2 linked regions of the Homo sapiens genome follow. The protein of the gene in region 2 interacts with the protein of the main gene of each other region in a biochemical or structural test. Each region holds a gene or a part of one and is shown on either strand. Other genes may lie near its edges.

Evidence for each region. The genes of interacting proteins can lie anywhere in the genome.
Region 1: the proteins of STXBP5 (region 2) and SNAP23 form a complex in vitro, tested with the Homo sapiens proteins (one study listed by BioGRID).

The regions. Positions count from the first base shown.
Region 1 is NC_000015.10:42,512,579-42,520,151, reverse strand, and holds part of SNAP23 (synaptosomal-associated protein 23), read right to left. Parts: intron 7,198-7,573; coding exon 7,156-7,197; intron 6,754-7,155; coding exon 6,705-6,753; intron 4,916-6,704; coding exon 4,798-4,915; intron 1-4,797. UniProt on the Homo sapiens protein: Essential component of the high affinity receptor for the general membrane fusion machinery and an important regulator of transport vesicle docking and fusion.
Region 2 is NC_000006.12:147,312,033-147,319,605, forward strand, and holds part of STXBP5 (syntaxin-binding protein 5), read left to right. Parts: intron 1-1,851; coding exon 1,852-1,999; intron 2,000-2,231; coding exon 2,232-2,299; intron 2,300-2,563; coding exon 2,564-2,604; intron 2,605-3,482; coding exon 3,483-3,703; intron 3,704-4,196; coding exon 4,197-4,375; intron 4,376-7,573. UniProt on the Homo sapiens protein: Plays a regulatory role in calcium-dependent exocytosis and neurotransmitter release. Inhibits membrane fusion between transport vesicles and the plasma membrane.

The DNA.
Region 1 (7,573 bases), on a different chromosome or scaffold from region 2:
TTGAACCTGGGAGGCAGGGGTTGCAGTGAGCTGAGATCACACCACTGTACTCCAGCCTGGTGATACAGCAAGACTCTGTCTCAAAAAAAAAAAAAAAAAAAAAAAAGCAAGGGGGTTCTGCCTGGTTTTGAATCCCAGCTCTTCCACTACATAGTGTAGCCTGGATGTAAAATGATAATAATAAAAAACATCTATCTCATATTAAGGCTACTGTTTAAGGATTAAATTAACATGTTCAGAATAGTACCTTAAATTAATGCACAGGCCCACAACTGTTACCCCAATCCATTGGGGGCAAGATGTTTTGGACAGTACCACATAATTAAATACATTAATATTTCTGTAGTGACGTTGCGTGTGGTGGCTCATTTCTGTAATACCAGCACTTTGGGAGGCCAATGTGGGAGGATTGCTTGAGCTTAGGAGTTTGAGACCAGCCTGAGCAACATAGTGAGAACTCATCTCTACAAAAACTTTTTAAAGTCCAGGTACGGTGGCTCATGCCTGTAACCCCAGCACGTTGGGAGGCCGAGGTGGGTGGATCACTTGAGGTCAGGAGTTCAAGACCATCCTGGCCAACATGGCAAAACCCCGTCTCTACTAAAAATACATTAGTTAGCAAGGTGTTGGTGCATGCCTCTAATCCCAGCTACTTGGGTGGTTGAGGCATGAGAATCGATTGAACCCAGGAAGCGAAGGTTGCAGTGAGCCGAGATTGTACCACTGCACTCCAGTCTGGGTGACAACGTAAAACTCTGTCTCAAAAAAAAAAAAGAAAAAGAAAAGAAAAGAAACAGGGTCAGGCATGGTGGCTCATGCTTGTAATCCCAGCACTTTGGGAGGCCGAGGCAGGCGGATCACCTGAGGTCAGGAGTTCAAGACCAGCCTGGCCAACATGGTGAACCCCCATCTCTACTAAAAATACAAAAATTAGCTGGGCGTGGTGGCAGGCACCAGTAATCCCAGCTATTTGGGAGGCTGAGGCAGGAGAATCGGTTGAACCTAGGAGGCAGAGGTTGCAGTGAACTGAGACTGCATCACTGCACTCTAGCCTGGGCAACAGAGTGAGACTCCGTCTCAAAAAAAAAAAAAAAAAGAAGAAGAAACAAAAGTTTTTAAAAACAAACCAGGCATGGTGACATGCACCTGTAGTCCCAGCTACTCATGAGGCTGAGGTGGGGGGATCACTTGAACCTAGGAGGTCGAGGCTGCAGTGAGCCAAGATCATACCACTGTACTCCAACCTGGGTGACAGAGTGAGACCCTGACTCAAAAAGAGTATTTCTGTAGTGAAACCAATTAATATCTACAGCAAGTAATAAAGACTAAACATAGCTTCAGTTCAGGTTACATTTTATACCCTAATGAGTTGTGGCACCATTACAGCAAAAATAAAACAAAACTTTAGGAGTTTTTTAGATTTCTGAATGGCCAGCAGGGCTTAATGGCTCATGCCTGCAATCCCAGCACTTCTGGAGGCCAAGGTGGGTAGACTGCCTGAGCCCAAGGGTTCAAGACCAGCCTGGCCAACATGGTGAAACCTTGTCTCTACAAAAGATACAAAATTAGCTGGGTGTGGTGGCATGTGCCTGTAATCCCAGCTACTCAGGAGGCTGACGCTGGAGGATAGGTTGAGGCTGCAGTGAGCCATGACTGCCACTGCACTCCAGCCTGGGTAACAGAGCGAGACCCTGTCTCGAGAAAAAAAAAAAAAAAAAAGAGAAAGAAAAGAAAAAGTATTTCCAAATGGCAAATAAGGAACTCTGGACCTGACCTGGGTTGTTACTGCTACTGCTGGTATGAAGACTAGGCCTTACACATAGGACTAAGATCTCATGTCTACCTTTAAGAAGCTCATGTTATGGTTATTCATGTGACGAGCCTAACTGAAACACAGACTAGCAGATTAGAAAGATCAAGACACAGGCAAGAATGATAGGAACAGAGCTGAGGATAAGAGATATCATACTGGCCAAGGTCTCAATGGTGTAAGAAAGAAATAGGTGGAAGAAAGACAATTACAATCAGACATCTTTAACTGAGATAATACTTTCTTCTCTTAAGGGAACTGTTTTGTTACAGCAGCCCCTTGATTCCATCTCTCAAGAAGTGCCAGAAAAAAAAAAAGAAAGAAGTGCCAGTTGGGTGCAGTGGCTTAAGCCTGTAATCCCAGTGCTTTGGGAGGCTGAAGTGGGAGGATTTCTTGAGGCCAGGAGTTTGATACAAGCCTGGGCAACATAGCAAGACCCCTGTCTCTACAAAAAATTTCAAAAATTAGCTGGGCATGGTGGCACACACCTGTAATCCTAGCTACTTGGGAGGCTGATGTGGGTGGATTGCTTGAGCCCAGATGTTTGAGGCTACAGTGAGCTATGGTGGCACCACTGCATTCAAGCCCGGGAGACAGAGGGAGAGGCCATCTCTAAAAAAGTAATGCCTTCTCTTGATCCACTGAGAAAGGGTTCTACTGAGGTTAGAGGCTGAAGAATGCTGATTCAGGACCATACCCTACCTTGTTTCCCACCAGTCTTCAAGAAAAGCTTGCCTATGCTTGGCTGGGATACACAAAGAGACATAAAATTAATACTCTGTAGCTGCATTTCCCACTTTCTATGATATTAGACCATCTTAGGTCTAATTCAGTGCTCTTCCTATTTATCAACACGTGACTTAGAGCTGATCTTCCTCTAAGATTTTAGGGGAGACTTCTTTCTCCTTGTTCTCCTAACATCTGATCTCAAGAAAATTCATCTACTTCCTCTCTTCTGTACTCTTCCAAGAAGGTACATGGAACACAAGAGAAAGGTACAATTATGTTTGTAAAACATAGCTAAGAGTTTGTATCAAATAATCTGTACATTTTAACTTGTTTGCTTAAAGTAATCTGCTAAACTCTGATTGACAAGTCATAGTTATTAAAATATGAACTTTTGGCCGGGAGCAGTGGCTCACGCATGTAATCCCCGCACTTTGGGAGGCAGAGGCGGGCAGATCACCTGAGGTTAGGAGTTTGAGACCAGCCTGGCCAACACGGCGAAACCCTGTCTCTACTAAAAATATAAAAATTAGCTGAGTATGGTGGCACATATTTGTAATCCCAGCTACTTGGGAGGCTGAGGCAGGAGAATCACTTGAACCCGTGAGGTGGAAGTTGCAGTGAGCCGAGATCACACCACTGCACTCCAGCCTGGGTGACAGAGCGAGACTCCGTCTCAAAAAATACAGAACTTTCAGTTGGTCAACCAAGGTGTAAACAGGTCAACAGACTTGTGTTAGAATAGGAAGCCAATGGATAAGACTAGGAAGAACACTGTCAAACCTTTCCTCATGGCCAAAACAAACACTAAAGTTGACTGACAAGCAATTAATCTCTACTTTCTATAACAGAAATGGCATAAAAATGTTGTTTCATAAAAACACTTACTGAAAATATAAAAATATAACCGCTGTTGGTTTACAAGACCAGCTGAGAACTGGATGAAATATTAATGTCTAAGAACCTCTTTAAAAATGAATACATTGAGGCCGGGTGTGGTGGCTCACACCTGTAATCCCAGCACTTGAGGAGGTTAAGGCGGGCGGATCATGAGGTCAAGAGATCAAGACCATCCTGGCCAACATAGTGAAACCCCGTCTCTACTAAAAATACAAAAATTAGCTGGGTGTGGTGGCATGCGCCTGTAGTCCCAGCTACTCGGGAGGCTGAGGCAGGAGAAATCACTTGAACCCAGGAGACGGAGGTTGCAGTGAGCTGAGACTGCGCCACTGCATTCCAGCCTGGTAACAGAGTGAGACTCCGTCTCAAAAAAAAAAGGATACTTTGGCTGTGTGCAGTGGCTCATGCCTGTAATCCTAGCACTTTGGGAGGCCAAGGTGGGAGGATCTCTTGTGCCCAGGAAAGAGAGGCTGCAGTGAGCTGTGATCACGCCACTGCATTCCAGCCTCAGTAACAGAGACCCTGTCTCAGAAAAAAAACAAAACAAAACTTTCAGCAGTGAGTACAGTCATTCAATCTCCAGATACTGTCGTTTCTTTTTATACTCCACTCCAATCTGTCAACTCCTTAGTTTGGCATTCAAGTTCCTCTACTACCTACTTATATCTTACTTTCCACTTCTCATCTACATGAGTCACACAGCTCAGTTAAGTCAAGCTCCTTGTTAATCTTTATTTTGAACCTTTCATAGGAAATGCCCTCACTGTTCCTCCCTGTTCATCCAAATCCTTCTTATCACTCAAAGCCCAATCCACATCCTACCTCTTCTATAAGATGCTCTCCAACCCAACCTTTATCAGTTCTGTATACCTAGCCTTGGTCACTATCATATAATCTAACATTAGATTTAGCCTTGCTCACTATCATATAATCTAACATTAGATTTATGTATTTTTTATGTTTTGCCATTCTTTCCCAACTCTTCTACTCTTTTGGCCATCCCTCATGTGCCTACCACAAAATATATATTTTGTTAATACTCCTCCTTTGAAAGGAAAAGAAAATAACTCCATCCTGCTTTCCATCATCCAGATATACATTTCCCTATACTTCCTAACCTTTTCATGTATTACTACAAATTGAAATTGGACTTGATCCCAGGATTGGTCAAATGTAAGTCACAGTTTTCAGTGAACACGCAGTATTTACACAAAAAGCTTAATCTGCCTGAAGGAGAGACAACTTAGATTTATCTAATAGAGTTCCTCATTAAGCCCAGTCATACTTCTGACCTTAGCTGGTGGGAGAAGGTGGGGTACTCTCATTACTTATTTTGAAACCATCTTAATTTATCAACTCACCTATTACATGGGCAGACACAAAGGCCACAGCATTTGTTGAGTTCTGTTAAAGTCTTCTCTGTCTCTCTCATGTCCTTATTTATTTGGTCCAAGCCTTCTTCTATGCGGTTTAGTTGTTCTAAGAATAAGTTGTGAAGTTAACACTTTGTGTTCCATTCACAGTGTCAACCAGAAAATGCTATTATTATGGAACAGCAAACTTCAACCTTGAATCTACCAATAACTCCCCACAGTGAGTATGTCAGTGTCAAAAGGTATTAGAAGCGATTCAACATGATAACAATCTTTCACGTACTGATCCGGAGGCACCTAGCCTCTTGCTGTGGAAAAATTTGTTCTAAAAAGCTTGTATATGGCTGGGTATGGTGGCTCACGCCTGTGATCCCAGCACTTTGGGAGGCCGAGGTGGGCGATGACCTGAGGTCAGGAATTCAAGACCAGCCTGGCCAACATGGTGAAACCCCATCTCTACTAAAAATACAAAAATTAGCTGGGTGTGGTGATGGGTGCCGTAATCCTAGCTACCTGGGAGGCTGAGGCAGGAGAATTGCTTGAACCCGGCAGTTGGAGGTTGCAGTGAGCTGCGATTGCACCACTGAACTCCAGCCTGGATGACAGAGTGGGACTCCCGCTCGAAAAAAAAAAAAAAAAAAAGAATCTTGTATAGTAGGACCAAGGGACGGTTATTTAGAGATCATCCTTACAACCAAGTTAAGGGTACTTTGACGAGGTCAAATCCCCATCATTTCTATAATAGGTTCAAAACCTGAGGGCTATTATAAGAGTAATAAAAACTAGACCTGATTACTCAGGGCCAACTCAACTCAAGTGTTTCCAAGCATACCTGAATCTAGATCTGTTTTAGAACTTGATTTCTGAGGATGATGTAAGAATATCACAATGTCTGGCCAGACACGGTGGCTCACGCCTATAATCCCAGCACTTCGGGAGGCCGACGTGGGCGGATCAAGTGACTCTTGAAGTCAAGAGTTCGACATCAACCTGGCCAACATGGTGAAACCCTATCTCTACTAAAAACACAAAAAATTAGCTGGGTGTGGTGGTGGACACCTGTAATCCCAGCAACTCAGGAGGCTGAGCCAGGAGAATCACTTGAACGTGGGAGGTAGAGGATCCTGGAGTAAGCCACGATTGCACCACTGCACTCGAGCCTGGGTGACAGAGTAAGACTCCGACTCAAAAAATAAAAATTAAAAAAACAAAACAAAACAAAACAAAAGGCCCGGCACGGTGGCTCACACCTGTAATCCCAGCACTTTGGGAGGTCAAGGCGGGTGGATCACCTGAGGTTAGGAGTTCGAGACCAGCCTGGCCAACATGGTAAAACCCCGTCTCTACTAAAAATACAAAAACTTAGCCGGGTGTGGTGGTGGGCACCAGTAATCTCAGCTACTCAGGAAGCTGAGGCAGGAGAATCACTTGAACCCAGGAGGAGGAGGTTGCAGTGAGCCAAGATCACGCCATTGCACTCCAGCCTGGGCAAGAAGAGCGAAACTTCATCCCCCACCCCCAAAACTAGACAAAAATAGCGAAACTCCGTCCCCCACCCCAAAAAAAAAGAAAAACATAGTTGGGTGTGGTGGCAGGTGCCTGTAATCCCAGCTATGTTACTATCATAATGTCTAAGGCACATATAACCAATACACAAAATAAGCCATGCTGGCCTAACACATACTTGGTATATACAATTGGGCATTGTTGCCTGCCATCCCAAATAGACAGTGAACATGATATATAATTCAAATCAGAAGACAAGAAGTAAACATAACATTCTTATTTTACAAAGGGAAGGCTCTCCCAAAGGCTGAAATTTGTATGTGGCTAATTTGATAGGGCTTTTTGGCATCACAGTCAAATTAAGAATTTCTGCTAATAATTTAACTTACCCTTTTGTTCATCCAGCATAGTGATGGTCTTGATTCCTGCATCCTGAGACTAAGACAAGGGGGGAAAAGCTGATAGTACAACAAAACAAACCAAAAACAACAGAAACAAAACCTACAAGAGCAACACAGAATAATTTAGAAACCCAAGCTCTCAGAGGATTAGAGCTACAGACAGAACTAGTATTCTTAAACTAACACACTTTAACATAGCAGCCCCCAAAATAATTAAGTCACAAACTCATAGTGAATTCATCTTCCCTGTCATATTCCAATACTGTTAAAGGGAAAAACAGAAAATTCCCATTAGTGCATGGTTTGACATTTCAGCAACTGTTAATTTCAAATAATAAAGCATATTGATACATTACCCTTTAATACTAATTCCAGCCAGAAGTATTAGGATCGCTCCTATAAATTTCTATACTTAAGTTGATGACTAACATTTTCTTACCTCAATGGCTAAACCCAGGATTCTCCTCGTACTTTCCAGAGACTAGGAAAGAACACAGAATTTTAGCATTCCAAAATATGTAGAAAAAAAAATCTGATCACAGGCCAAATTCATGATGCTATTCTATCTTTAAAAATTGCCAGCTCAGGCCGGGCACAGTGGCTCATGCCTATAATCCCAGCACTTTGGGAGGCCGAGGCAGGAGGATTTCTTGAGTACCGGAGCTCAAGACCAGCCCAGACAACATAGTGAGACTGTTTCCATTAAAGGAAAAAACAAAAAGAATTGCCAGCCTATCCTTCCCTTTAAAACAAAACAATGGCCGGGTGTGGTGGTTCAAGCCTATAATCCCAGCACTTTGGGAGGCTGAGGTGGGCGGATCACGAGGTCAGAAGTTTGAGACCAGCCTGCCCAACAA
Region 2 (7,573 bases):
TGATCTCTGTCTTCTCACTAGTGTCTATTCCTTAGGAAAACAGAACTATGTATTCAACAGACATCACATTTCTATGTCTTCTCCTATGTAATTCCCAATACCTGAAACACTAGTTGTTTCACTGCCATAAAACTCTATATAACTTTCAAAGTCAACCTTCTTATCTTTTTCGGGCTTTTCCTATCCTCTGTTTACCAGATGTATTATATCTGATCTGTAACTTCACACCATAGCTTCTTTGTAACTTTTCATGGTATTTGCCATATTCTGCTTTTTGGATCATAGATGATAATGTTTACTTACAAATTATTTGAATGGAAGCACATTGTATTATTTATCTTTGGAGAAAGAATCATTAAGTATGGTTTTTAATTGAGTTTACTCATTCAGTATTGCAGTGTTTCTCAATCAAGGGTGATTTTTGCATTCCCTGCCCCCAGCCCCGCCCTTCTCCCACCCAGAGAATATATGGCGATCTCTGTGGAAACCTTTTCAGTGGGTTTGAGGGTGTTGCGACTGGCATCTAGTGGGTAGAAGACAGAGATGCTGCAAAACATCCACAGTGCATAGGACAGTTCCCTACAGTAGAACATTATCTCGTCCAAAATGTGAATAGTACTGAGGTTGGGCGACCCTGAATTAGGTGAACAGTATCATTTACCTGATGTTTAGGCAATTCTAAATTTACTTTAGTACCTGCTACTTTTACTAATCAATTGTGAGGAGTCTTTTCAAAATAACAAGATAATTTGAAAATATTATTTCTGTCCTAGAATAACTTATTCTTAATATGATTTTCTTTTATTTTTTTCCCTTAGGCAAGTTTTTCAAATAATTGAGACTTTTCACATGTGATCTGTACTGAGATACATTTAAGTCAAAGAAAATACTATGCAAGTAACCTGTGACTAGGCATTTTATTTAGCAAAAGTATCAGTTAAATGTATGGTAATAATAGAATCACTGAGCTAAGGAAATAATGTGTGTTATAAAGAGAAGAAAGTTGCTTGCCGTTTTGTCATTTTATGAATGCATGTTGTTTGTGTTTGGTCCTGGAGGTGGGAGTGGTGATAGTTGGGTTCATTTTGCAGTCTATAAGGGACTATTTGGAAATTTCTCTCTTCTGTTTTAAAAAATTGTCAGTAGTAGACTGATCTAATTTTTGCAAATTAGCCACTTTGCACTTTTTAAATTTTTTAGCCAGTTTCTGGTTTTCCAGACTATTCTCATTCTAAGGACTTTAAAATGAGAAAAGAAATATTTTATATTTAGATAGGATTCTACTTTAATTTCATGATTTTTAAAAGCATTTTTTGCTTTATTTAATAAAGTAACTTCATATCTAGAAAACATTTAAGGTAGAATTTTATTATGTATTATTACCAAAACAAGAAAAATATTCTGAATTAAATATTGGACTAGGTATCATGTTTATGGAGAGAAAAAGAATGGAACATTTGTTAGCTCTGCTGACATAAGGATGAGGTATGTGTTATTCCACCATTTGCTAGCAGGCATGCTTTTGACACATTATTCTCTGTAAGCCTTTGTTCTTCAGTAAAATGCCTATGTCGTAAGTTTGGTGCAAGAAGTAAATGAGATGTATATATTTAAAGCACTTAGTGTAGTGTATGGCATATGGCATGTAGTTGCAACTAGAGCCTTTCTGTTTACTATTCTAATTGAGCAATTTTCATTATAAAAGACTTCCATTTTTAAATATATTTACAAAAATTAAATCAATTTAATCTCTATGATAGAATGTATGTTTTTTAAAGTTTTTATTTTTGTATTAATCATATGGTATAATTCATTAAATTAATAAATACTTTTCTTTTTCTGTTGTTAAAGATATCCTATATTTGAAAATCCCTACCCTTTGAGTATACATGAGTCCCCTGTTACATGTTGCGAATATTTTGCGGATTGTCCTGTGGACCTTATTCCTGCACTTTATTCTGTTGGAGCTAGACAGAAACGTCAAGGTTACAGCAAAAAGGTATTGAACATGAGCTTCAGTATTTAATGTTATATTTCTTATTTATTCTATATTTATCACCTTGGAGTATTTGATAACATTATACCTTTTCTATGGAAAATAGGTTAAAAATTATTTTTGCAAGCAAAATATGTTTTTCACTGGATTATTTACACACACACACACACACACACACACACGGAGGTATGTAGTATGCTTGCAAGTTGCTTTATACAGTCATCTTTTTTTATAGGAATGGCCCATCAACGGAGGTAATTGGGGCTTGGGTGCTCAAAGTTACCCAGAAATAATTATTACAGGGTAAGTAAAAGTCTGTCTTCACCAAGTAAATCTATAATAGCTAAATATAATTGATTGAGACTACATGAATGTTAACTTACTGGACAGGTAGAGCTTTCCTTTATGTCGTAATATAATAAGAAATGTTATTCTTAAGAACCTGCCAGTTTACCCTGATTTTTTTTACCTTTTTACTCATTTTGTTGACTTTTTAATAGCAGTACCCATTTAAAGAAGGAAGAACTGTAATTTTATTCATCACATTCTTAACATTGCTTTTCTTAGGCATGCTGATGGGTCAGTTAAGTTCTGGGATGCTTCTGCAAGTAAGTATTTTTAATATTCATTATTTGTTATATGTTATACAATCACTGCTTTTATGCATCCTGTTTTATAATAATTGCATAACCAATATTTAATTTGAAATGTAGAGGTTATAAATTTAATGCTTGATTTATTAAATACATGAGTTTAGAATTTTTAATATAGTCTTAATATTAGTAAATCAAGAATAATTGGCAACACAAGTATTCAATTTTATTTTTTCCTTCAAAATTTCTTCAAACCTTATCTTCCTAAGTCAGAGTTAGGGGAAGTGGGAATGTGTTCCAAATCAACAGAAATTTCTAGAATAATTTTAATGCCTGACTCTAAATTTGTATCACTAACGTTCATGTTGTCTTTGCGAAATAAATCTGGTGGTTACATAGTAGCAAAAAAAGAAATAATGCCTTTAATGATTAATGTTTCAAAACACACATGGCAAGCATTCAATTGGAATCCAGTTAACTCAGGATATGTTGTGTTTCCTCATGTAGGAATGTTTAATTATATTGGTACTGTATCTTTTCTAGAGAAGATACATAGAAAATCATTTTAGGAAGCAAACTGTGTTGTTTATTATTTTCATGTATTTACACATTATTTTTCCAAAATGTTTTTATTACTCATTTTTTTAAGATTACCTAAAATCCATTGTGATAATAGATTTTTCTTCATGAATACAATGAGCACACTCTTGTTTGGTCAATGAGAACAAAGAATATATTATCTAAATGTTTAATAGACTAACGTAAATTGAGAAATGAAAATATGATGTAGTTAAATATGGACCATTTTCTATACATAGTATGAGTGATTAAATGTTACCTTATGTTTGATCATTTTATATTAAAGTATCTGACATATATTATCTTTTTTCCAGTAACTCTACAAGTATTATATAAGCTAAAGACATCTAAAGTATTTGAAAAGTCAAGAAATAAAGATGACAGGCCAAACACAGACATTGTAGATGAAGATCCATATGCCATTCAGATCATCTCCTGGTGTCCAGAAAGTAGAATGCTGTGCATCGCTGGAGTTTCAGCTCATGTCATTATTTATAGATTCAGCAAGCAGGAAGTAATCACAGAAGTCATTCCGGTAATAACGTCTTAGTTATTTTCATGGTCAAGTTATTTTCATCCACATTTTTAAATTTGTGGATGATTTGGAAGACTTTTTGCAGTCAGTTTTGTGCAGAACTTTTGAAAACACCTTAGTATTTATATTATTATCTCTCTTTTGTAAAAAACAGCATTTTTTGCATATATTTTCACTGATTATTTAAATCCTTAAGTATAGGATATGTTTCCTTTAAGGAAAGCTAATATGAATATGAGTATACTCTAATTTGATATTAACACGAGTACCATACATTCTAAAATCATAATGCACGTTTGTGTGTGTACTCCCTGAGTCAAGAACGTTTTCTTTCTTGCTAAATCCTTATTTTTTGAAATCTTGCTAAATTTTTACCTTTAAAAATCTTCTTGCCACTGAAGTTTATGTAAAGTGTGTGTGTATGTGTGTATAAATTGTGATAAAATGAGCAATAATTATTAGGAGTAAGTAAACTACCTTACTTTTACAACAGATGCTTGAAGTTCGATTATTATATGAGATAAATGATGTGGAAACTCCGGAGGGTGAGCAGCCACCACCTTTGCCAACACCCGTGGGAGGGTCCAACCCTCAGCCCATCCCTCCTCAGTCTCATCCATCTACCAGTAGCAGTTCATCTGATGGGCTTCGTGATAATGTACCTTGTTTAAAGTAAGTTATAAAAAACTACAGAGGAGTTTTGGATATTATCTTTTAATTTATATAAATTGTAAGCATTAGAGCTATGGTAACATTTTCTTTTGATATAGCAAAATGGCATAAGAATGGTTCTTCCTGTGTTTTGCTATGGTTAGTCCAACTCATTTTTCTATGACATCAAGAGGAATATGATTGCATTTCATGATATTATCCTTAAAATATTAAGGTTTAATCTCCAAACATTCTCGTAAAGCAGCAAGGATCTAACCTGTATATATCGCTCAGTCTTCTAAATCCATCAGTGTTTTTAGTCTTGATTTATATGTAGCTTGGATTTATGTTCCGACTGCTTTCTACAACTCTGAAAATTCTGTTTAAGTCTTTTAAGACTCAGTTGTTTTCTAATCATTTTCTTTTTCTGAATCTTCACTAGCACCACCGTATCTTTATTTAAAACGTTTTATTGTTGCATCCTAAATTTAAATATATCTTGCTTTTATACAGAGATAAATTGGATGAAGTTTTATTTTTTCTGTCCAATTTTTATTATTGAGTGGTTAAAATGTTTAAATGATAGAGGCAGAGAAATAAAACAATGAGTAAGAAGTTAAAATCATTGAAAAAGTACATGAAGACTATGTGATTAATAGTATATTTACAAAGAATTCAACTAGGATAATGACGGAAAGGTGGTTCTGGTAGCACTCAGAGAGATTCAGTAGATTGGTAGAGGGCAAAAGCCAGAGTGTACTAGGTTCAAGGTAGAGAGGGTAGTAAGTAAGAGAAATAATTTGCATTTATTAAAAGGACCAGGCTTTGCACTATTTTACTTTAATCTGCTTGAGTCTCTTCTACTGGTAGATAAATAATTTCTGGGAAGAATGTCTGTGTAATGAATAATGCACTCACACCAAAGATAAAACGGATAGATTTTTTTTATATTACAATCATTTTAAAAATACAGAGTTTTAGAAAATTATATGTTTACAAAAATTGAAGGTCATGTAGTCTAAGCTGGTGGCTCTCATTTGCATATGATTTTGTTCCCTAGGGGACATTTGGAGATGCTTTTAGTAGACACAACATGAGGAAGGGAGATGCTATTGACACTTAGTGGGTAGAGGCCAGGGATAATGTTAAATATTCTACAATGGACAAGGCAGTGCACACAACAAAGAATTACCAGCTCAAAACATCAGTAGTGCCAAGGATGAGAACCTCTGATCCAAACAGTATATACCCATTGAGGTTAAGCAGCTACATTTCTCAGAAAGGTATCAAGTTTTTCTTTCTCTCCTCTCCCTCTCTCATACCTGTACTAGAATATACACACTTATAACTGTAGTTCTAGCACATGTTTTAACTAGAATGAGACTTGGGAATACAGAATTCTACACTTTTCCCCTTTATTACTTCTTCAATACTACTTTATACTTAAAATTGTAAATGTTCCGTTAATGCCCTTGTTTCTGATTTCAATGTTTTTTTCCCAAGCCCTTTGTTACATTTAATTTTTATGACATACGTAGTACAATTTGTCTTTGGGGCATTTTTTGTAACGTATTTCTATATTTCTGAAATAGTGTTTTCAACTACTGAAGTGACATTTTAACAAAATAACAATTCCATATAAACATACATTATCTTCAACAGAATTAGAATGATTTATTTAATTTGTACTTCATAATTTCTGATGCCTCCAAGTTTTTTAGGCTTGTGGCCAGAGATCCAGCAGTATAAAACATTAAATTCTTTTCCTACCTGAAGAAAAAACACCATCAATGCACTGCTTTCTCATGACAAGATAGGTCAGAGGAAATAGTACTGACAGGAGAAGCAGTACTGTTTGGACCAGAGTGACAAGACCTCTTACCTTGGCTTTCTAGGTTAAAGTTAAAGGCCAGCCTGATAGGTGAGTCTTTGTCCTCTGTTCTTAGAAAGGCCTTTTTTTTCCAGTTTTTTTACTGACTGAAAGAGCAAGGATAATAGTTAAGGCAGCAACCAGCAGCAGCTGTTAAAACCAGCAAACCAAAATGCAGAGTACAACAGTACCCAAATCCATTTTAAAGGTAATACTGACTTCGTTCTGCAATTATGAGTTTTCTTTATTGTTCATGGACCTGAGATTATGGTATGGCCATCTTTCTTGTTTGGGAGGACTTTTCATACTTGTGATGGAATGTTATGGCACACTATTAATCTTTTGTAATTATTTAATGGAATGTCACTTAATATAAGAATTCCTTTTAAGCTGCTGGTTAGTCCCAGTAGACAGAGAGTCTCATTAGCCAATCCATTAATGATACATGTGAGGAGAGTCCTTTTTGTTGTTGGCATTAATTGTTATCTTTTGTGTATGGATACACTTTGCCAATCCTGGGATATACACGCAATAACATCTTAACAGTTTTTTCTGAATCCTAAAATAACTAATGACTGTGATTTGATGGTTTTTTTTCCTTTTGAATATCACTGTGGAACTCTAGGTATTTTTTATAGGCAATTTGTTTTAACTTACTGAATTTAATCAACTTAACGTGATTTTGTCACAGTTTTCTAGAGGGAGCTTCTTTTAAGTTGGTGTTTGTGTCTTCTTAACACCACCTCAGAACTTTGTGACCATCCTTAATTTCTGTCAAGATGTTCTAGACTTGCTTTGAATACTACTTGCCCTCACAGGGTAACAGACCAAAATATGATCTTTAGAAATGTTTGTAACATTATTTTTAATAAGCAGTATATTGTTATAGTAGACCACCTGGTGACAAGAGCTAAAAAAAATGGGGGGGTTGTTTTTTAAAAAACAGTCATTAAAACTCTTTTATTTTTCATTGAGTTTTTACATTACTATATAATGTAAATAAATAATTTTAAATCTCTTACCCAAACCACTCTTCTCCTATAATTTGATTAGCCTGGAATTATTCCATTTAATATTATTTATCTGTTAACAAAAGTAAGTCCAAAATTGTAGTATTAAAATTACCACTGATAGTAAAACACTAGATGAATAGTAAAATATAACATGACAGCTGTCCTTTAGACCTTTGAGCATATGACAAGTGATTCATAAGGCAATTACATTGTTTTGAGTTACTTTAATAATTTTTCTTCTGTTTTGGTTTTTTGTAGACTAACCTCATGTATAATAAAACTTTATAACAACTAACCTCATGTATAATAAAACTTTATAAATTCATTTTATCTTGA